Homo sapiens: one gene and its partners. The protein of the gene in region 5 purifies or fractionates together with the protein of the main gene of each other region. This does not show direct contact. Each region holds a gene or a part of one and is shown on either strand. Other genes may lie near its edges.

Region 1 (3,500 bases), on a different chromosome or scaffold from region 5:
TACTTCAATGAGCCCAAGTGTTTTTATTCCCTACCACTTCAATTCACTTCTTCCTCTTTCCAGCAACCTCATGTTGCTCTGAATAACACTTCACAACTAGGTTTGAGCCTGAACCATGACAAAGTAACTTCCCAGAAGATCCAGCATGCTCTGATGATTCCAAGAGCTGCAACTAGAGCACTAAATCAATGACTCAACAGTATAAGGCTCAGAAGCCTGGTACATGTTAATTTATAAACAGGTAACAGCAAGGATGCCTTCCAGATGGTCAAGAGCTTAATAAAAAAAAAAAAAAAACTGAGGAAAAAGGGAAGGTTTAAATCACTCAGTCTCTTCCAATAACAAGTAAATGAAGAAAGTCTGAAGATCAAAGTGAGAATGATGCAGATCCTAGATCCTAAATGGGAAATTTTTTCATACCAACTGCTTTTCCCAACAGAACCAAGTAATGGGAAAATTACTGTCATTCCCTCGGCAGAAACTAACATAAAGGGACTCTTTTAGGACTCTCTTCCCAAATACAACTTACCCTTTCCTTTCTCAGTGGCCTTCACTTCTCCAGGCTTCTGTTCTTAAGAGTACAAAGAAAACCATCTGGGTAGCACTAAAAGCCAAAACTCTCTCATTGGTGTATCTTATAAATCAATTCTGAAATTTTCCAATACTCTCAGTTTCCACAATCTCAAACCTAAGTTTCAGACATCCTGGAAAAAAGCCATTAGCATTTAAAAAGGCTTTAGTCGGCCCAGCATGGTGGCTCACACCTGTAATCCCAGCACTTTGGGAGGCCAAGGTGGATGGATCACTTGAGTTCAGGAGTTTGAGACCAGCCTGGCCAATATGGTGAAACCCCATCTCTACTGAAAATAAAAAAAATTAGCCAGGTGTGGTGGTTGGCACTTTTAATCCTAGCTACTAAGGAGCCTGAGGCAGGAGAATCGCTTGAACTTGGGAGGCGGACGTTGCAGTGAGCCGAGACCGCGACATTGCACTCCAGCCTGAGTGACAGAGCAAGAGACGCTGCCTCCAAAAAAAAGCCTTTAGTCTAGTCTAGTTCTCTTTCTCATAGAATTGACTGCTTAAACTGCTTTAAGCCTCTCTGGTGGTTTCCTCCCACTTCCTTCCTAGCTTAGGATCATCTAATGATGGAGCTGGGTAGAAAAATATGAAGACATCTATGATTCCAAAATAAAGGAGGAAAGGGTAGGTAGAAGATTCAGCGAAGTAAAACTGATAACACGACTGAAAGGACAGGCTTTTTCTCATTTTTCTTACATGTCTCTGGGATTTGGATTTACCTGTACCAGACGCTGAGCCCTCTCAGTCACTTGGCTTTGCAAAACTCAAGAGAAAGCGTTATCTCCTCACTTCCCATGGAGTATCCACCCACCCAAACACCCCTGCTGGGAGAAAACTCACGTAAAGGCAAAGAAGAGTGTCGTAGCTCCCACTAGGAAGATGGCGGCTGCAGAGACCGGGACATACTTGCTGGGTTTGAATCTCTTTCCAGACTCTGCGGGCATGTTGGAGCTCTGATGGGAAATCTGCCCTGCCGCATAGCCCAGGCCCACACAGCGGCAGAACAGACAAGAAAATGGGAGGAGGGAAGCAACAGAGAGGAGTACAAAAGAAAACCAGGGAAACAGAAAACTTTATCACCCTTCCCCCTCCCAAATAAAGCCAAAGGTCAAAAGATCTCAAATGAAGGAAAGCACATGGGAGGGGGAAAGGTGATTCCAAATGATGAATAACCACCTCCCCAGAACAAGGCAGAAGGGAAGATTAAGAAACACAACTTGTACAGTTTAAAAACTGGAGACAAACAGTAGGCTGTACACATGCAAATGGTTGCAGGTGGAAAACATGGACAGTCAGACAGATCAAGATACAGCTCATGGATGGAGGCAGGTCTTCAAAAGAAGGAGAGAATATCAGGGTATGGCAAAAAAACTTTGGGCAAAGAAAAATTCTTCTGAGATACTATAGTACCTCCACGACTACAGTTCCATAAAATGTGAGCTGCACCTAAAAGAGGTGTGCCCTGTGTTTCTATTTCTATTTCAATCCAAGAAGGAACCTGAGGCCCCTTCCAACTTTAAAGAGGAGCTTTGTTTACTGCAGTCTTTGTCTCTTTTAGGTAGTCTTCTCAATGCCACCACTCCCACACCCTGACTTCACCAGGGCTTGTAGTCTGGCAATGGTGGTTTAATTTATTTCTCTCTTGATGGCTAAAGCTGGACAACAGCTGTTCTAAGTTTGAGCTGTAAATCCTTTTCTTTGAAGGGGCAAGGAAAACAGGGCAAGCTTCTCTGTCTTCAATCTCTTCTTGTTATTCCCAAGCCCTTTAAGGGCTCTGTTTCCTACAAAGTTCATGTAAAACTAAAGGGAAACTTAAAATCCTTGAAGCCATGTTCTTCCCAATAGGCAGAATAAGATGAAGAAATCAATTCCAATTGATGACACTTCAAAAGTTTACTGTGGATGAAAACGAAGTTCCAAAGATGTCCCTGTTTCCAGACTAGTCAATGTCTCTTATCTTTCTTCAGTCTTCAGCTTTCCAGATGCAGAGTTCAACCAGGTTACTGTGTCTCACCTGGAGAAAAACAAGTATCTTTATCAGAGAATTCTTTCAGGGTATTTCTTAGACACCAAGGCTAAAATTCCACAGGCTGCTGTTAAAAAGTACTTTCTGAAAGAAAGACTGTTTTCCATTTCACTTACATGTATGTGGGTAAGAAGGGACTCTGAATTCAGAGGAAAACTGACTTGAGAATCCTTTGCTCTGTTCAGATTGGAAGCAGAACATGGCTTCACCTGGCCAAAGGACATCAAAGGACTAGCTCTTGTAAGGGGCCCATCTCACCTGACATAGATGGTAGTAACAAATACCAAGAATATCAAAATCACAAACAAGGGCACAGCAGTGAAGGGCAGTCCTAGAACAAAGATTTCTCTTTGGACAAGAAGAGTGTTTATTGTTATAGTGAAAAAAGAAAAAAATTAACCTCAAAATTAGGAAAGCAAGTCTCATTTTCTTTCTCTGTGTGTTTCTTTTGCTCCTCTATGCTTTTTAGTTACAATCCTGAAGAGGTAGAAGCTGAATTTTTGGTCTTTTGGAATCACCCATTAGAACACTGGGTAAGAAATGTTCTTGCAGAGAAAGCCATGATGCCCTCTATGAGAAACTGAATAAGCATAGCATAGGGTTGGTTCTTTTTTCCCAATTCAACAGTTTATTATTCCTATATTGGCCTAAGGTAACTGAGCCCCACCTGCCCCAATATGATTAAAAGTAACAATTATTTCTGTTGATGACAATAACAAACTAACACCAGCACCTTGGGATTTTATAAAATGCTTTTCATCTGGTGATCTAAAAGCACTTTACTCACATTATCTGGTGACGCAGTCCCTTATCCCACTCTTTAAAATTGAAGGCTACAGAATGCCCGAGGACATTCCACTGAATCACCTCAGGTTCAGAACTCAAGAGGTCACAT
Region 2 (3,500 bases), on a different chromosome or scaffold from region 5:
AAAGGAGGTGTTCATTTAACAAAAGAGTAAGTCTGGAGGTTGTTATTCCTTGTCTTTTGGCCAAGCAGTTATGGAAGATCTTGCTCAAGATTGAAAGGCACACTGAGGTTGGTTGTGGTGGGGTAGGAGCGGGCCAAAGCAACTAGAAGAAACTGAAATCATAGGTAGAGGGCTCTGGCAGTGCCCTAGTTTTCCTTCTGCCCCCACAAAATGATTTTTCTTACTAATTGGTGAAAACTTGACAGTCCTTCTGTCCTAAACAATCAATGATTCATCATAAATGTTGGAAATGATACCACTTCCAACTGAAATGCTACTTCCATAATGTCACTCCTCTATTCAAGGACCTGAAGGGACTCCCCATTACCAGTGGCATCTGGGGTACCTCCCCTCTGATAGTCCAAGCCTTCCTTTATTTGAGCCTGTCTTTTCAACTTCATCTCCTGCATCTCCTAGCACTGAACACTTTCCTCTCCTCCCTGTTCCTGTCACACACCTTTTTACTATTTACTTTGATCTTTACCCTCTTCCTTTCCCTCTCATTGTTCAATATCTCCCCAGTTTTCCACTGTCGGATCTTCAGTCAACCCTTATCTGAATCTGGTGTGCATTTCAGCATTCTCTCTTTACTATGACTGTAACTTTTTTGGGTGAAGAGGTCACAAAGCATCTTTTGTTTCATTTATTCATTCATGAACTCACTTTTATTTTGCTCTCAGTGAGCCTCTAGTACAGTGCTAAACACGCAGCACATAAGCAGAAAGACTCATGGATTTTGTGAGGGTGAAGGTGAACCCTTTGCAGTGTAGACATGAGGCTCTGTGTAAGGACTCTCATTTAAATGATTTTCAACAAACATTCATTTTCTGCTTGTTTTCTCTTTCTCTTAGCCCTAATGTTGTGGGACAGCTGGCTAAACAGATGATTGGGTACAATCTAGCGACAAAACAAACTCCAAAAGAAGGTGTGAAAGTTAACAAGGTAATATGGATACTTTGGGTCATTTTCTATATATGTGTTAAAAAATAGAAAAGAAAACCATCCTTCAGTTTTTGACAGAATCTAATGAAGTACTGCTCTTTGGCAGTGTGCCATTTTATTTTTTAAAGCTCATCTAATCTGTTTAGTAAGTAGTATGTCTTGGAGGAGAAATAAAAAGGGCTCTATGATAGTAATATTATTTATTATCATTAGCATTTAGCAAAAAGTGGGTGAGGGTGAGTGACCGAGCAATGGCTTTCCCTCTGAGAACACAGATGCATTCTATTTAGTTGAGAAGCGCTTGCTGTGACAGCCTTATACTCAGTGAGGGACATTCGCTGCTCCCACACAGTGGCCCTCAACCCCAGGCGTGTCTGTCAGAATTACCTATTGTGGTTGTTTTTCTAAATGCCCCATTCCTTATTTTAGGATGACTGTAATTTTGAGCCATTTTTATTGCTGGGGGTATATTGCATTAGGAAGGTCAGCTGAAGTACCCAAGTATGTATAGCATGTGGACACACACCCCTCATCCACACATAGAAAATAAAGCCCAGAGGAAAGTGGCCTGCCTCAGTCATGAAATTGTGAGTGGTAGAGCTGAGACCAGAACCTAACTCTCCCTCCTGCCAATCTACCTTTCACCATCCCTTTTGTGTATCCAGACACTAGAACTAGCTACCTGGGTTGCAGAATCCAGTGCCAAATAAAAAGGCAGGGACCCGTGTTAAAATTTCAAGACAGCTATAGCTAAACATTAAATCCCTTTACAACTACACAGATCACATGTGTCAGCCCTGAAAAGCATCCATGGTTAGAAGATCCTGTCCTAACAGCGAATTAGGGTCCTGCATTTTGGGGTGGCAGCTGTCTGCTCTGTTGACATAGCGTCACAGATCAGTGGTCTCTACCAATGCACCATGCTGCAGGACACTGCAGTGGTGACATCCTGTTTTTACTTTTCAGGGAGAGTTTTGTGGAAAACTCTTAAGTTGTTGTATTTATCAGTATTTAGTTCCATTTTCTTTTGTTAATTTTTGTGGGTACATAGTAGGTGTATATATTTATAAGGTACATGAGATGTTTTGATATAGGCATACAATGTGTAATAATCCCGTTACAGTCCTTTTTCTTGCTATGTAGCAATCTATGATATGGATGTACCTACCACAGTTTGTTTAACCATCATCTGTTGAAAGACATCTGGGTTGGTTCGTTTTTGGCTATTACAAATAAAGCCACTCTAGACATTCATGAACAGGTTTTTGGTATAAATATAAATCTTCATTTTGGGGGATAATTGTTGGGTTATGTGGAAGTTGTATAATTAGTTTTTTTAAGAAACTGATGAATGTTTTCCAGCATGGCTGTTCCATTTTACATTGCCATCAGCAATGTGTAAGTGGTCAGGGTTCTCCACATTCTAGCCCGCATTTGGTGGTGGTGGTATTATTTTAGCCATTCTTATGGGTGTGTAGTGATATTTCATTGTGATTTTAATTTGCATTTCCCTAATGGCTAAAGATGTTGAACATCTTTTCATGTGCTTATTTGCCATCTGTAGATTGTGGTTGGTGAATTGTCTGTTCATGGATGCTATGGTCTGAATGCTCCCTCCAAAATGCATGTTGAAATTTAATCCCCATTGTGGTTTGCATTAAGAGGCAGAGCCTTTTGGGAAGTGATTAGTCATGAAGGCTCTGCCCTCATGAATGGATTAGTGCAGGCTTGTCCAACCCACGGCCCACAGGCCACAGGCATCCCAGGATGGCTTTGAAAGTGGCCCAAGACAAATTTGTAACCTTTCTAAACATTATGAGATTTTTTTTGCAATTTTAGTTTCTTAGCTCAGCTATTGTTAGTGTTAGTGTATTTTATGTGCGGCCCAAGACAATCCTTCTTATGCCATTGTGGCCCAGGGAAGCCAAAATATTGGACATCCCTGGTAGTGCTTTATAAAAGGGCTGAAGGGAACTAGCTTAGACCTGTTTTGCATTTCCACTTTCTGCCATGTGAGGATGAAGCAAGAAAGGCCATATCACTAAATGGCGGTGCACTGATCTTGGACTTCCCAGCCTCCAGAACTGTGAAACAATATATTTTTGTCCTTTATAAATGACCAAATCTCAGGTATTTTGTAACAGCAGCATGAAGAGACAAAGCAAATTTCTTTTGGCCATTTTCTAATTAGATTATGTTTTTACTATTGAGTTTTGAGTTATTCTAGGTACTAGTCCACTGTTGGATATGTGCTTTGTAAGTATTATCTGTTACACTATATAACGTATATATTCATTTTTTCAACAGGGTCATTTGCAGGGCAAAAGTGTTTAATTTTGATGAAGTCCAATACGTCAATATTTCCTTTATGGATTATACCTTTTTAGTATCAGGTCTAAGTCCTCTTTACGTTGCCCTACATAATAAAAATTTTCTCATGTTTTTTTCTAGATGTTTTATAGTTTTATGTTTTATATTTAGGTTTGTGATCCATTTTGAGTTGACTTTTGAATAAGTTG
Region 3 (3,500 bases), on a different chromosome or scaffold from region 5:
GGCATAAAAACAGACACATAAACCAAAAAAACAGAATAGAGAACCCAGAAACAAATCCACACACCTACAGTGAACTCATTTTTGACAAAGGTGCCAAGAATATACACTGGGTAAAAGACAGTCTTTTCCATAAAGGGTGTTGGGGTAACTGGATATCTGTATGCAGAAAAATGAAACTAGACCCCTATCTTTTGCAGTATATAAAAAGCAAATCAAAATGGATTAAAGAATTAAATCTAATGCCTCAAACTTTGAAACTACTACAAGAAAACATCGGAGAAAACCTCCAAGACACTGGTCTGGGCAAAGATTTCTTAAGCAATGCCCCACAAGCACAGGCGACTAAAGCAAAAATGGACAAACGGGAACACATGAAGTTAAAAAGTTTCTGCACAGCAAAAGAAACCATAAACAAAGTGAAAAGACAACCCACAGAATGAAAGAGAATATCTGCAAACTACCCGTCTAACAAGGAATTAATGACCAGAATATATAAGTAGCTCAAACAACTCTACAGGAAAAAAATCTAATGATATGACTAAAAATTGGGCAAAAGATCTGAATAGACATTTTTCAAAAGAAGACATACAAATGACAAGGAGACATATAAAAAGGTGTTCAACATCACTGATCATCAGAGAAATGCACATCAAAATTACAATGAGATATTTTATTACCCCAGTTAAAATAACTTTTATTCAAAAGAAAGACACTAGCAAATGCTGGCAAAGATACGGAGAAAAGGGAACCCTTGAACACTGTGGGTGGGAGTGTTAATTAGTACAACCACTGTGGAGAACAGTTTGGAAGTTCCTCAGAAAAGTAAAAATAGAGCTACCATACGATCTAGCAATCCCACTGCTAGGTATATACCCAAAAGAAAGGAAATCAGTGTATCAAAGGGATATCTACATACCACATTTGTCGCAGCACTGTTCACAATAACCAAGATTTGGAAGCAACCTAAGTGCCCAGCAACAGATAAATGGATAAAGAAAATGTAGTACAGTTACACCTTGGAGTAATACTCAGCCATAAAAAGAACGAGATCCTGGCTGGGCATGGTGGCTCACGCCTGTAATACCAGCACTTTGGGAGGCTGAGATGGGTGGATCACAAAGTCGGGAGTTCAAGACTAGCCTGGCCAAGATGCTGAAACTCCATCACTACTAAAAATACAAAAATTAGCCAGGTGTGGTGGCACGTGCCTGTAATCCCAGCTACTCAGGAGACTGAGGCAGGAGAATCACTTGAACCTGGGTGGCAGAGGTTGCAGTGAGCCGAGATCACACCACTGCACTCCACCCTGGGTGACAGAGCAAGACTCCATCTCCCAAAAAAAAAAAAACAAAAGAATGAGACCCTGACATTTGCAACAACATGACAACATGGATGAAACTGGAGGTCATTATATTAAGTGAAATAAGCCAGCCACAGAAAGACAAACAATGCATATCCTCACTTACTTGCGGGAGCTAAAAATTAAAACAATTAAACATATGGAGACAGAGAGTAAAAGGATGGTTATCAGAGCCTGGGGCGGGTTTTGAGGGGGCAGCGGATAAGTAGGAATGGTTAATAGGTACAAAACGTAGTTAGAAAGAATGAATAAAATCTAGTGTTTGATATTACAACAGAGTGACTACAGTCAATAATGATTTAATTGTACATGTTAAAATGAAGAGTATAATTGGATTGTTTTCAACACAAAGGATAAATGTGTGAAGGGATGGATACTCCATTTACCATGATGGATTACACTTTGCATGCCTGTATTAAACTATCTCATGTACCCCACAAACACATATGCCTCCTATGTACCCACAAAAAATAAAAATTTTTAAAAATGTGTAAAACAAACAAAAAAAGACACAAACAAGTATTCCCTGAAGATAAAACATGAATGGCCAGTAAACATATGAGAAAAGGTTCAACTTCATAGGTAATTAGGGAAATGAAAAATAAAAATCCAATGCAATGATAATTTATGTGAGTTAGGTTGACAAAAAAATTTTAAATGTTGGCAAACATGTAAAGCTTTGGGTATTCTTATGTACGGCTAAAAGGTTATAATTGGTACAGCCCTCTAGAGAAATAACTGAACACGATGTTGTAAAGTGTTAACATTCATGTATCTCAGGACTGGGGAATTCCACCCCTAGATATGTTTCCGAGAGAAATTCTTGAACATACACAACTTGAAACATACACAAGGGTGTTAACCTCAAAAAACTGGAAACATCCTGTGTTCATCAACAGAAAAATGAAAAAATAGATTGTGGTGTATTCACAATAACATACTATATAGTAATAAAAAATTAACTAAAATTATATGCAATGACAATACTTTCCATCATGCTATTGAGTGGAAAAAGGAATTTATAGTATTTTTATCAAGCTCAAAAAGAGGCCACACTGAATATATCACTTAGGTGGGTAGATAGGTAGGTAAATAGATTATAAAAAATAAATAGAATAAAGTATATATTTGCATATACTAAATCTTGAATAAATCTCATTTTTGCCTGCCTAATTTTCATCTGTTATTCAAGTATCACTTTTAGAAGGGACAAGAAAATCAATGGCAAACTTACCTGCAGAAACACTGGGGGAGTTCTCCTTGGCCATATAAAGGAAACAAAAATGGAGTGTTGCCATACCGCCCAAGACAGTGAAGAAAGTTTTTGGTAGCTTTGAGACCATCTATGGTGCTGCTGGCTGTCTCTGATGTCATTGCAATTGAATGCATGACAATATATTGGAGGTTGGGGGTTAATTTTTGAGTCTTTAAATATTCATAAAATGTGATCTCTTCATATCCTATGAAAAGATGAAATTTTATCACTTAAAATCAGAACTAAACTTCTATTTAAAACCACCCCACAAAAAGGAGATGAAGTGTGTTTCACAGACCTCACAAAGGACATAGGTGGTATTACATTTTGGACACTGATGGTTGATCTTAGGAAAAAATGGAAACAATCTCTCTCTCTTATTTGGAGTAATGGCACAATTTTTAGCTTTAAATGATGAATTATGATTGAGCATTTCATGGATTTAAAAAAAACTAGAAAATATTAAATAACTCAATGGGTTGTCATAGTTGGCAATAATCTCACTTTATTATCATGAAACCTGCAGGATAATGCCAATAATGGTACTGAAAATATTAAACAACTATGACAACATGGGAATGTATTGATTTAAAATGATAAATATGTGAGTTTTGTAAAACGTATACTTCTCACTGATACTCAGAAAATAAACTAAAAAATAATGAAATGAATTTCCATGTGGCTACTGGAATCAGTCTTATGGCCACATAATCACATCAAAACATACGGGACCCCCAGAAGTTACTCCTTTAAACCAAGAACAGAATATAATGTAATTGGACTGTTAGTGGTGGGAAATAAATCCCATGATAAAAGACAAAAACTTTACAGAAATAATTTACATAAATAAAAATTATGAAAATTTACTGAGAGAATTGAATTTTA
Region 4 (3,500 bases), about 40 Mb from region 5:
ATTAAATATATATCATTCTATACTTAGTGCTAAGGCACAAATGGGAGACAAAAAATACCCCACAGTAGGTTCTTGCCATAGTAGAGCTTTAGCTGAGGAGAAAAACATGCATTAAATATCACATTTAAGAAATATAATTAAAAGACATATATATGGCTATAAAAACTCAGAAAAAAGCACCTAGATATTGTCCAGAAAATGTAAGTAACAGAGCTAGCCGTCGGAAGAAGCAAAGAGAAATATATCAGGGGAAAAAGAAGGGAAGGCTATTCTAGATAAGCATTAATAGCATGTGCAATGTGGTTAATGAATATGAAAGACCATCTAACAGGAATGCTCATGATACACTACCAAAGCTTGCAATATTTAATAATGTGGGTCATGTGAGTGGCTGAATAAATATGTTCTGAAAGAAATAATGTCAACTATAAGTAGCCTTGCTGCTAAACTCCCTAGTATTCATTTCTCTTTGCCCAGGAAACTTGCTCCTCTCTCTGTCATTCCAATGCAACTCTCTGGCCCCAATCTACTTTCCCAACCTCATTTTGTATTGTTTCTCTGAATCTAGCAACACTAGATTATAAACCACTCCTCAAATAACTTACGTATTTTCTTCCAGGCTCCTATGTTCTTGTTTATATTATTCTCTTAAGTCTGTATTTTACATTCTTAGCTATTAAAGTTCTACTCACCCTTAGGGCTCATTTCAAATGCTATCTTTTCTTTGAAACTATTTATCCTCAACTCCAATAATTAACCATTCCTTTCTGTTCTCCCACAGAACTCCACTTATTACGGTGCTTAAATTTGCTTTGTTTTTTGTTTACATATATCCTTAATCACAGTGAAATGCATTTCATGGTTGTGGTAAGGGTTCACAAGTATTAGAATGACAGAAAGCATCAAAAGTGAAGAAAACAACAAATGTATCTAAAATTACTATTCTAATTATTCACAAGTCTCCAAAGAAACCCGGGCAATGTCCTTTGATATGCTAATTTCAAGTTTATTAAATAATCTCCCATAAACTTAAAACCTCTCTCTCTTTTTTTTTTTGAGACAGGATCTTGGTATATTGCCCAAGCTATACTTGAACTCCTGGCCTCAAGATCCTTCCACCTCAGCCTCCTAAGTAGCTACAGGCTAACGCCAACATGGCAGCTCTAAAATCTTAAGATTCTGCTTAGACTGTGTCTATTCAAAGGTGAGAAGAGAGTTGGAGTGACCAAAGTAGTAATATTAACCAGAGAGGTAATGTGTCTGTAGTTTTTCCTCCTATTTAGAAACAGTACTAAAATAGAGGCATGACATTTTCTGACAGGGCATGTACTAACTCTGGCAGATTTCCATTATTCACAGTAAGAGCCCTAAAATGGATCTAATCTAAATGTTTCCTAATGTATTATTCAATCTCCAGGCAAGAAATTGACATATATTAGTTGGCCACAGGGCTCAAATCAAGACAGTAAAGCGCTATTAACAATACCCTTTCAGCAGCTAACCCTCCAACATTTTCTTCACATCCCACGAAGTACTTGTCATCTCCTTAAACTACTGTTACCTCTTATACCCCAGTTTCTTGCAAATAATAATGCTGCCTGATACTTTCCATATCCTCAGAATGAACTTACCGTAAGTCTCATAATAGGAGCTGCTTAACTTACTTATTTAAACCTTCAACAAAACAGGCCAGTTTAAGATTTTTAAAAAATTGCCCAAATACCTTAACATGTTGACCAAGTCATCTAGGAGATAATACCATTTTCGATTTATCAAGAACCTTATTAAAACTAAAATTAGATATTTCTATTGGCTTTACAAGAAAGAAAGAGTGATACATTGTGATTACCTATAAATTCCTGGACCCAATCCCAGATCTACTTAAGCCCTCTTGGGAGCACAGCACAGAATTGTCTTTACTTTGGCACTCTTCCCAAATAGATACAAAGAGATGGTGTTTTAGGGACACTGTACTCAACACTGGACTCAATTGCCCGAATTACTCCAAGATAACATTCTACACTAGTCCACAGACCTATTCTGCTAAATTTCTCCACAAGAAACGGGACCAAATTCCACTTCTAAATGACCACACCATAAATGAGTTTTCCAAGAAACGTAAGAATGGAGGGAAAAAAAAATTGTTTCTAAAAATGCTTTATACCAACCATGACTAATCAGGTAGGCTGTGGGGAGTAACTTCTTGGAGAGAATACACACACACACAAACACGCACATGAAAACACGCTCCTACACCCCACAGACAAGACATAGAGGAAATGAGGGATAAATCTCAACTAGCATTTATTGAGCACCTACTATGTGACAGAGATCATATTGGACTTCAGGGATATATGGTGGAGAAAGATCTCTCTGTTCCTCCAATAATCTCATGGGTCTTAGTCCCATTTTACAGATATGAAAGCCGACATTTAAGAAACATCCTGCCATGGTGGGCAGATCGCTTGAGCCCAAGAGTTCAAGACCAACCTGGACAACATGGTGAAGCCCATCTCTACAAAAAACACAAAGATTAGCCAAGCATGGTAGTACACGCCTGTGGTCACTATTCAGGAGGCTGAGGTTGGAGAACTGCTTGAGACTGGGAGATAGAGGCTGCAGTGAGCTATGATCACGCCACTGCACTCTAGCCTAGGCACCTAAGACCCTGTTTCAAAAAAAAAAAAAAATCCTATGATGATCAAACTGGAAATACACAGCATAGTTAGCACACGAATGCAAGCCCACCTAGTGCCAATGCTTGTTATTATTTTCCACTCTAACACAGCACCTAAAGCCTTAACTGAGGAGGGGGAAAAAAAAATCACAAAAATCTTCCTTCTTGACATTTAAATCTATTCAATCTTCCTTATATGAGGCCAAATAGTTTGAAGGCTTTAGCCATATTAGTTTCAAAATAATATGTGATTTTGATCAAGTGCGGGTGGTGATAGTTTACATGGTAGCTATCATCGTTACTTTACATATGTAACACTTTCATAGGTGTAATAGACTTCAGGCAATGTTGTAAGTATTCGAAACATATTAACTTATTTAATATTCAAAACCAACCTATGAATTAGGTACCATGACAGAAAAAAAAATGGTTAAATAAAGTGCATGAGGCCACCAATTCAAATTCAGGTCATCTGGCTCCAGCCTTCATGCTCTTAATACACCACTTGTAAACACAGACATTGAGACTTGAAATGTTAAGAAAGCATAAAAACAACACTGTTTCAATAAACAAGAGCATACAGTCACGTATCTGCCACCACAGTCAATCAGCCTTCATTTTTTCATTCTAAAATTGGTATGTTTAATGTACTTAAAATGAAGGAGGCAGCAGATTTACAATTGCTCCTTAGTGTGAGGTTGTTAAAAAAAAAAAAAAAAAAGGCCAGGCACGGTGGCTCACACCTGTAATCCCAGCACTTTGGGAGGCCAAGGCGGGCAGATCACTTGAGGTCAGGAGTTCGAGACCGGCCTGGCCAACATGG
Region 5 (3,500 bases):
CCTCCTGCTGTCTCCATAGTGGTAACTCCTTCCAAACTGTTTGGGGACTTTTACAGCTTTCTTATGTCAAACTGCCCTAAGAGACTGAGATGAAGAGAGAGAGGTTGAGTCACTGTAATTCCTTCTTGTTAATATAAAAGAGGGAGGGGTAACAGTTACATAAGGTTCTCTTTTTTGCTTTGCAGAATGCATCTTGTCTTGTTCTTGCAGCCCGGCATGCCAGTGCTTCCTCCACGGTAAGGTTTGGAAAAGAAGACTAAGAATAAGAATCATTGCGGCCAGCCTGACCTTGGGGCAGAGGATTTGGCAACCACCTGGCCTCTTATTATCCTGAGTATTTCCTGGAAGTGTTTGTTACTATTGTTATTGTTATAGCTGCTATTATTATTATATTACTATTTAACAAATAATTTACTCAGTGGTATAGTGAGATGGGAATATCAATACATTTGCCTAATTCTTTTAAATGTTTTAAGTAGTGTAAAATATACATAACATAAAATTTACCATTTTAATCATTTTTAAGTATATGGTTTAGTGGCAGTAGATATGTTTACATTATTGTGCAACCATCCATCTCCAGAACTTTTGTCTGCCCAAACCGAGAAACTGTTCCCATTAAACATTAACTCCTCATTCCTTCTTCCCCCTGCCTAATTCTTTTACCCTCATTTGTGCAGAGTAGTTGACCAGACTTCCCTGGCAGATAAAGCCAGCTTCTAAAAAGCAAATTCTTGACACACCTACTTTGCAGGAAATCTAATAAACTTTTAGACCATTGCTTAGTCCTTCTACTTTTCTTTTTAGAATTTGAAAGACATATTGGCTGACCTGATACCTAAGGAGCAGGCCAGAATTAAGACTTTCAGGCAGCAACATGGCAAGACGGTGGTGGGCCAAATCACTGTGGACATGGTAAGGGTTGTGTGGCTTTGGCTGGGAAAAGTAGCTCTGTAATGTGCTTCAACAAAAGTAACATTCTCTCCACTGACTATTCAAAAGCATTCTGTCCCATAGGCCCTGTAGGACAGCTTTAGGATGACTTTTCCCCATCCTTCAGATTCTGAGCAGCTCAGCTGATAGTTTCTCAACAGTTTTTAGCTTATTGGTCTCCATCCCCTTCTCCTAGACTAGAACTCATTCTGTTTGTTTTGATTGGTTGGAATTTGAGGGTAGGGTATGTTGGGGAGTGGTTGAGTGGGCAGGAGAAAAAAAGTGAAATACAATAAGAAAAGGAATCAAACAGAGGGCGCAATGGCTCATGCCTATTATCCCAACATTTTGGGAGGCTGCAGTTGGAGAATCACTTGAGGCCAGGAGTTAACAACCAGCTTGATCAACAAAGGAAGATACAATCTCTATGAAAGAAAAATTTAAAAAATTAGCCAGAGATGGTGGGATGCCCCTGTAGTCCCAGCTACTGGGGAGGCAAAGGCAGGAGGATTGCTTGAGCCCAGGAGTTCAGGGCTGCAGTGAGCCATGATTATGCCACTGTAGTATAGCCTGGGCAACAGAGGGAGACCCTATCTCCAAAACAAACAAAAAGAAAGATAGTGATTTCTCAACTTAAAAAATTTCATTTCCAGGCCTGTTGCAGTGGCTCATGCCTGTAATCCCAGCACTTTGGGAGGCTGAGGCGGGTGGCTCATCTGAGGTCAGGAGTTCGAGACCAGCCTGGCCAACATGGTAAAACTCCGTCTCTACTAAAAAATATAAAAATTAGCTGGGCATGGTGGCAGGCAACTGTAATCCCAGCTACTCAGGAGCCTGAGGCAGGAGAATCACTTAAACCCAGGAGGCAGAGGTTGCAGTGAGCTGAGATTGCACCATTGCACTCCAGCCTGGGCAAGAGTGAGACTCCATCTGGGGGGAAAAAAAAAAAGATCAGCCTTGGCAACATGGCTGGCAAAACCCTGTTTTTTTTTTTTTTTTTGGGACGGAGTCTCACTGAGTCACCAGGCTGGAGTACAGTGACGTGATCTCGGCTCACTACAACCTCCGCCTCCCGGGTTCAAGCGATTCTTCTGCCTCAGCCTCCTGAGTAGCTGGGATTACAGGCCCGCACCACCACGCCCAGCTGATTTTTGTATTTTTAGTAGAGACAGGGTTTCACCATGTTGGCCAGGATGTCTCGATATCCTGACGTCGTGATCTGCCCGCCTTGGCCTCCCAAAGTGCTGGGATTACAGGCGTGAGCCACTGCACCCGGCCTAAACCCCATTTCTTTAAAAAAAAAAAAAAGAAATACAAAAATTAGCCAGACATGGTGGCACGTGCCTATAATCCCAGCTACTCAGGAGGCTGAAGTGGGTGGATCACCTGAGCCTGCAAGTCAAGGCTGCAGTAAGCCGTGATTGTGCCACTGTGCTGCAGCCTGAGTGACAGACTCTGTGAGAGGCTTAGTGATCTTCCCTCCTCCTCAGCCTCCCAAAGTGCTGGGATTACAGGCATGAGCCCCACCGTACCTGGCCACAAAGTTTGTTTTTTTTTTTCTTTTTTTTTTTTTTTTTTGAGATGGAGTTTTGCTCTTGTCACCCAGGCTGAAGTGCAATGGTGTGATCTTGGCTCACTGCAATCTCTGCCTTCTGGGTTCAAGCGATTCTCCTGCCTCAGCCTCCCAAGTAGCTGGGATTACAGGCACATACACCATGCCCGCTAATTTTTTAATTTTTAGTAGAGACATGGTTTCACCCTGTTGGCCAGGCTGGTCTCAAACTCCTGACCTCAGGTGATCCACCTGCCTCGGCTTCCCAAAGTGCTGGGATTACAGGTGTCAGCCACTGTGCCTGGCCACAAAGTTTAATTCTTTAGTAAGCTGACTCCTCAGACATCTCTCACCAAATGAAGTCTTACAAGTCTGAGAATAAATTTTCTCTCCCAGATCCCATGAAGCTCTAACAAGTTCTAGTCTGAATCATTCTGATTACTGGCCACAGCCTCTTTTTTTTTTCCTTCTTTCTTCATCCTCTTTAGATGTATGGTGGCATGAGAGGCATGAAGGGATTGGTCTATGAAACATCAGTTCTTGATCCTGATGAGGTAAGACATCTTCATGTCAATTACTAATAATCATTGAGTTTGTGCAAATACGCAAACCGTGGATTAGACCAGTAAGGGTAAGCACAAAACAGAGCACCTAGCTTCATATATTGGAAGGTAGAGAAGACATATGTATGGAATAATTGAAGAACAAATTTACCTTTTAAATATATCAACTAGTAAAAATAAAAGTACAAAACCAGAGGTAAGTTATGTGAAGATTTAAGCTTAATTTAAAGTTCTGTTCTGGACTGGGCGCAGTGGCTCACACCTGTAATCCCAGCACTTTGGGAGGCTGAGGCGGGCAGATCATGCGGTCAGGAGGTTGAGACCGTCCTGGCTAACACGGCGAAACCCTGTCTGTACTAAAAACACACAAAATTAGCCGGGCATGGTGGCAGGCACCTGTAGTCCCAGCTACTCGGGAGGCTGAGGCAGGAGAATGGCGTGAACCCAGGAGG
Region 6 (3,500 bases), on a different chromosome or scaffold from region 5:
CATGGCCAGGTTCTGAACTCATGGTCTCACAAGGCTGAAATCAAAGTGTTGGCCAAGGCTGGGGACTCATGTGAAGCTTGGGGTCCTCTTCCAAGCTCATGTGGTTGTTGACAGAATGCAGTTCCTTGGGACTGTAGGACTGTGGCCCTTGTTTTCTTTCTAGCTCTCAGCCAAGAACCACTGACAGCTCCCAGAGGCCACGTGCAGGGCCTTGCCATGCGTGGTCTCCATAGGCGGTTCACAACATGCATGTTTGCTTCTCCCGGGCCAGCAGTTTTATCTCTTTACTTCAAGTCTCTTCTTCCAGGAAGGCCTAATTTCTTTTAAGAGATTACCTGATATATCTGCCCTCTCCAGGGTAGTTTGCCTTTTGGTTAACTCAAATGCAACTGATTTGGAGCCTCATATATCTATAAAATGCCACCAATTTTGTCACATAATAGGACCTAATAATGGGAGTGACATCCATCATATTCACAGGCCAGATACAGTCAAGAGGGATGATATGGGGCATGTACACCAGGGGCAGGAATATTGGGGCCATCTCAGAATTCTTCCTACCATGTTGCCATAAGTAAAGGGGTCTTCTCAAATATGCTCAACAGGTGCTAGCTTTTATCTTTCATCAAATTTTTGGAAAAATAATACCAAAATATTAACTGAGAAATAATTTTTCCTTAGATTTTGTGTCATCCTGAAGTTCTTTTTAGATTATATAAAACAATTTTTTTTCTTAAATTGGAAAAAATACTTTCCAAAATACTTATTGGATATTAAAATGTTCCAAAAATTATTTTAAGAAAATATATTGCCTAATACCACTGTAACTTAGCATAGTGAGTTGAGGGCTTAGCATATTTAGTAATCTAATTATATCCTCTTACAAGACAAAAATACCTTTGTTTTACAGAGTAATACAAAGGCAAGTCTGTAACTAGTTATTTTTCATTCTAAAAGATATCATAGGTTAGATTTGTTATATTAGATTGTACTGATGGCATATTAGCAAAATTAAAAATGGTTTGATTTCCTGGTCATAAATAAGCTGATTTGCACTATAATAAACAATGAATAAACAATAAGTGAACAATGATGTAGGAAGTATCCTGGTGAAAGCCATATTTACAATAAACTTGACACTTTTTGAATGCCATGTGAATATTATTTCATGAGTATAAAGGATGAGAGTGGTTTAATTAATTGTTCATCTACCAAATAACGTCCACTGCACAGAAAAAAAGACTAATTTCCTTTTTAAAAATCACTACTTATGCCCAATTTTAATAACATTTTAATTGTTTGGCTTTTGAAAATATGCAAATATTAGAACGTGACAAATAATGGTCAGCAGACCAGGTAAGAGACAGGATTTAATTTTCTAGCTCAAATTACTGGTTTTTAATTATAACCTTGACATCTGTATATTTCTGTATCTTTTCTCCACATCTCACCTGCGTTTTCTGAAAGTTCTGTTATATTCCTTATTGCTAATTATGGTTATCTACTTTGCTCTTATTTCCAGGGATGCTCTCAAACTTGTCCAGTTGAAACAAACGGGCAAGATTACCGAGTCCAGACCAACTCCAGCCCCCACAGCCACTCCCACAGCACCTTCGCCCCTACAGGCCACAGCTGGACCATCTTATCCCCGGCCTGTGATCCCACCAGTATCAACTCCTGGACAACCCAATGCAGTGGTAGTGTTCTCTAAGTGGATTTTTATTTCTTTTTCTTGTTTTTCTTTTTTTTTTTGAGACAGAGTCTTGCACTGTCACCCAGGCTGGAGTGCAATGGCACAATCTTGGCTCACTGCAGCCTCTGCCTCCCAAGTTCAAGTGATTCTCCTGCCTTAGCTTCCTGAGTAGCTGGGATTATAGGCACGCACCACCACACCCACCTAATTTTTGTATTTTTAGTAGAGACGGGGTTTCACCATGTTGGCTAGGCTGGTCTCAAACTCCTGACTTCAGGTGATCCACCCGCCTTGGCCTCCCAAAGTGCTGGGATTACAGGTGTGAATCACCGCACCTGGCCTAGATTTTTATTTTTCAGATTCAAGTGTGAGAGAGAAAATAAGAACAATTACTATGTGTTTTAAGAGTAGATTTAAAACAGATTAGTTTTATTAATCCGTTTCAATAGTAGCTAAGTGATAAGGATAAAACACTCCAAATGCTTTGTTTTACAGATTTCCTATCAGAAACCAAAATTTGTTTGTGTGTTAACTTCCAAATAAACATTAGAACTATAATTCAATTTAAAGTTACCACAAGTTCCACAACTTCAGTAACATATATATTCTCTACAATCTCATGTTTCATGTCTTAAGTGTGATACTAATAATTAGTAGCTGACACTAGCTCCCTTTTGTGGATATGTTCTACTTTTTAACTAGGGAATTGATAATCTCACTATGAAGAACTATGTAGCTAGTCATTCTTTCCTTCTCAGATGCATGCAGTATAACAGCCCCTTTTTGTTTTCAAATTACTCCATTTTGCCTCTCTGTGCCTTTCCTATTCAGGTTATTTTCTTCCTATCAGAAGAAATGTAGGATAGCCCAGTTTATTTAAAATCGAATGGGCACTTAAAAAAATAAATAGATAAATGTGTACTCCTAGTGGAGAACTATATACCATATGATATTTTAAAAGAGTTGAAAACAGTACAACTTTCATGGGAAACAGATTTTTAAATATCCATTAATGATTAATATACTGCATACTTGAATAACCTGCTCTTTAAGGACATGCAGTTGGATAAGATACTATGTATATTGAGTGTATAGTCCACTCTTTGACTATATAATGTATATGGACTATGAAATATGTATAATTCAATCATATGTCTTTTAAAAGTAGGTTATTCAAGGCTGGGTGTGGTGGCTTACACCTGTAATCCTAGCACTTTGGGAGGCTGAGGTGGGAGGATTGCCTGCACCTAGGCATTCAAAGACCAGCCTGGGCAACATAGTGAGACCTCATCTCTACAAAAAAATTTTAAAATCAGCTGGATGTGGTAGTGTGTGCCTGTAGTCCAACTACTCAGGCGGTGGAGATTGGGGAATCACTTGAGACTGGGAGGTTGAGGCTGTAGTGAGCTATGTGCACTCCAGCCTGGGTAATAGAGGAAGACCCTATCTCAAAAAAAAAAAAAAAAAGTTATTCAAATTAAGGAGGTAAACCTTACTTTCAAATTCTTATGGTATGTAGAGAGCATTTATTCTACTTGACCAAGTACTTTGCTAACATAAAATGTTTAATTTCTTAATGATATTTGTAAAAATGAAATCAGCCGCACTTTCATTTGCTTTGTATTATCTTGAAGTGATTGTAATGAAATCCCAAAATAGAGTGAAGGACAAGAAAGGAATTAGATATAATTTAAAATCTGTCATGCTTTTTTGAGAGATCCAAGGAACAGAATGGAAAAACTACAGTGAAGTTATAGGAATATTTTATTATCTCATTCATACTTTCTATTATGAATCTGTAAGAAAT
Region 7 (2,406 bases), on a different chromosome or scaffold from region 5:
GCATCTTCAGTGGTGGGGCCTGGCTGTGTGTTTCTTCAGAAGCTCTGCGAGTGACTCTAAGGTGCATTCCTGGTCACAAACCTGTGCATGGAGGGGATGGGTGCAGCAGACAACTGAGACAGCCAAGAACAGGTTCTCTGTGCCTTGCCCTCCCTTCTGTAAAACAGGGCTGGAAGTTGGGACTGAGACATAGACATAGGCCGATCATGAAACTGGAAGGGACTTGAAAACCATCAAGTTTAATCCCCTTATACAGATGGGGAAATTGAGCCCCAGGTGGGGAGGGGAGTGACTCGCCCCAGATCACTGTCAGGTCAGTGGGAAGGTAGGACTAGAGTTAGGCCGTCTGCCTCCCCATCCAGTGCTCTTTCTTCCTGCATGGATTGGGTATGTACCAACCTTCTAAGTCTAAACACCCTTACTGACCCTGTGGGGACCGGAAATACACAGGTAGATCCAGATTCAGAAGGATATACAGTGAAAATTCTCCCTCCCACTCCACCCAGCCACCTCCCTAGAAGTCAGATTCTTGTGTGAACTTCAGAGGTGTTTTATGCTGCACACAAATGCATATGTGTCCTCTTCTGTCTTTCTTATATCACATTTATCTGTATTTTTTCACCCACTATATTTTGGAGATTATCCCATGTTGGTATATGAAGAGTGTCTTTTTGACCAGCCTGGACAACATAGTGAGATCCCATCTCTACAAACAAAATTTTTTTTAATTAGCCAGGTGTGGTGGCACGCACCTGTAGTTTCAGTTACTTGAGAGGCTGAGGCCGGAGGATCACTTGAGCCAGGTGTTCCAGGCCACAGTGAACTATGATCACACTTCAGCCTGGATGACAGAGCAAGACCCTGTCAAAAAAATATATATTTTTTCTTTCTCTTCTTCTCTCAAGATCTCTTTTCTTTCTTTCCTTTTCTTCTTTCTTTCCACAACACTTTTTTAGGGGGGTAGACTTATCCTTCTAAAATGAGGGGAACCTTCACTAACGTCAGATGAGTACTTGTCTCATTTTACCAAGTACTTGCTTGGTAAAAGCAAGTACTTGGTAAAGTACTTCCTACTTTCTACTTCAATGAAGCTGGCATTCAGTGGGTTTAATTATTGTGCCTCCTGCAAAGCAGATGTTAACAGCTGTAGGGGCAAACTGCAGCTAATACCAATGGTATTGGCCAGTTGAAATCATCATGGTTTTACAAAGGGTTAATAGAGAGGGTAGTTTCTTCCACATACTTTTGAGAGCTGGTATATGCTGATTTCTGCTGCTGCCTATTTAATAATGATGATGTAAAAGATTTAGAGATGTCTGGCTGATTTTGACATTGGCCTGTAGTCCTAGAAGAGACACTACCCTGAGTGTCTTTGAGCAGTCAGAGAGTGCACCTCTGCCCTGGGCCTGTTTACCTGTTAGAGTGAGCCACACAAGAAGGAATTCAACGTGGCAGAGCTCTTGCCAGAGGGAGCTGACCATCTTCAAATGTTAAAAAAGGTAGACAGAAGAGAGCCCTTAGCCCAACCCCTATGGTTTTGAGGGACTTGATTTGCATTCACCTTGCTTGGACACTGAACCAGCTGAGGAAGGAGTTTCACCCAAGATTGTGGGTTTTCCCTTTCAGTTTCAGTTATCATTTGTTATTGATTCTTTTCTCTTTTTTCAAGGGTCTGAATCCAGGGAAAGCTATTGCAGAGATCAAGAAAATGATGGCAACCTATAAGGAGAAGAAAGCTTCAGTTTAACTGTTTCCATGCTAAACATGATTTATAACCAGCTCAGAGCTGAACATAATTTATATCTAATTTGAGTTCCTTTAAAGATCTTGGTTTTCCATGAATACAGCATGTATAATAAAAATTTTAAGAAATAAATGTTATTCTACTTTATTAACAAAAAAAAAAGAACCTGTTCCTTTACTTGCCGCAGGGGAATGTGAAGGTGCCAGGAGTCCTTGTCCTTGGAGAGATGGACAGGGCTTCAGAGCTGAGCGGGGGTGGGGGTACCCTAGCTGGAAGGAGGTGATGAGCCGTGGAACTGACATCAGCAGGGCCTGCAGCTTGTTCCCAGCTTTGCCACTCACCAGCTAGACAACCTTGGACAAGTTCCTTCACCTCTTTGCTGCTCCATTCGCCCATCTGTAAGATGGGATCCATAATTGTGCCTACTTCATTCATCTGGTATGAGAATGCCTGGCACTTATTCTGAACACTCAGTTAGTGTTAGTGTTCTGTATCTTCCCAGTTTCTATAGTTTTCAGTACCAGAATTACTGAAAACCAAATCTTGGTAAGTCTTTGGATACGTCGGTGAGGCCAGGTTTGAGATTCCTCCAGCACAGAGCAATGACCCTGGTCAGTTGTGAATCCAGTTAGTTCCACAAATGACCTCGTGGGGCCTCTCAC

The links.
Region 1: the proteins of CS (region 5) and ZDHHC5 purify together in Homo sapiens (co-immunoprecipitation; one large-scale study listed by IntAct). This does not show direct contact.
Region 2: the proteins of CS (region 5) and SUCLG2 purify together in Homo sapiens (affinity purification with mass spectrometry; 2 studies listed by BioGRID, with this or other methods). This does not show direct contact.
Region 3: the proteins of CS (region 5) and CHM purify together in Homo sapiens (co-immunoprecipitation; one large-scale study listed by IntAct). This does not show direct contact.
Region 4: the proteins of CS (region 5) and STRAP fractionate together in Homo sapiens (co-fractionation; one large-scale study listed by BioGRID). This does not show direct contact.
Region 6: the proteins of CS (region 5) and PDHX fractionate together in Homo sapiens (co-fractionation; one large-scale study listed by BioGRID). This does not show direct contact.
Region 7: the proteins of CS (region 5) and SDHB fractionate together in Homo sapiens (co-fractionation; one large-scale study listed by BioGRID). This does not show direct contact.

Annotation. Positions count from the first base shown.
Region 1 is NC_000011.10:57,671,114-57,674,613, reverse strand, and holds part of ZDHHC5 (palmitoyltransferase ZDHHC5), read right to left. Parts: intron 2,594-3,500; 5' UTR 1,524-2,593; coding exon 1,420-1,523; intron 1-1,419. UniProt on the Homo sapiens protein: Palmitoyltransferase that catalyzes the addition of palmitate onto various protein substrates such as CTNND2, CD36, GSDMD, NLRP3, NOD1, NOD2, STAT3 and S1PR1 thus plays a role in various biological processes including cell adhesion, inflammation, fatty acid uptake, bacterial sensing or cardiac functions.
Region 2 is NC_000003.12:67,525,613-67,529,112, reverse strand, and holds part of SUCLG2 (succinate--CoA ligase [GDP-forming] subunit beta, mitochondrial isoform 2 precursor), read left to right. Parts: coding exon 1-26; intron 27-890; coding exon 891-981; intron 982-3,500. UniProt on the Homo sapiens protein: GTP-specific succinyl-CoA synthetase functions in the citric acid cycle (TCA), coupling the hydrolysis of succinyl-CoA to the synthesis of GTP and thus represents the only step of substrate-level phosphorylation in the TCA.
Region 3 is NC_000023.11:85,953,559-85,957,058, forward strand, and holds part of CHM (rab proteins geranylgeranyltransferase component A 1), read right to left. Parts: intron 2,821-3,500; coding exon 2,595-2,820; intron 1-2,594. UniProt on the Homo sapiens protein: Substrate-binding subunit of the Rab geranylgeranyltransferase (GGTase) complex.
Region 4 is NC_000012.12:15,885,387-15,888,886, reverse strand, and holds part of STRAP (serine-threonine kinase receptor-associated protein), read right to left. Parts: intron 1-3,500. UniProt on the Homo sapiens protein: The SMN complex catalyzes the assembly of small nuclear ribonucleoproteins (snRNPs), the building blocks of the spliceosome, and thereby plays an important role in the splicing of cellular pre-mRNAs.
Region 5 is NC_000012.12:56,283,331-56,286,830, reverse strand, and holds part of CS (citrate synthase, mitochondrial precursor), read left to right. Parts: intron 1-185; coding exon 186-236; intron 237-807; coding exon 808-915; intron 916-2,973; coding exon 2,974-3,039; intron 3,040-3,500. UniProt on the Homo sapiens protein: Key enzyme of the Krebs tricarboxylic acid cycle which catalyzes the synthesis of citrate from acetyl coenzyme A and oxaloacetate.
Region 6 is NC_000011.10:34,965,118-34,968,617, forward strand, and holds part of PDHX (pyruvate dehydrogenase protein X component, mitochondrial isoform 1 precursor), read left to right. Parts: intron 1-1,522; coding exon 1,523-1,697; intron 1,698-3,500.
Region 7 is NC_000001.11:17,018,222-17,020,627, reverse strand, and holds the end of SDHB (succinate dehydrogenase [ubiquinone] iron-sulfur subunit, mitochondrial isoform 1 precursor), read left to right. Parts: intron 1-1,669; coding exon 1,670-1,747; 3' UTR 1,748-1,906; downstream 1,907-2,406. UniProt on the Homo sapiens protein: Iron-sulfur protein (IP) subunit of the succinate dehydrogenase complex (mitochondrial respiratory chain complex II), responsible for transferring electrons from succinate to ubiquinone (coenzyme Q).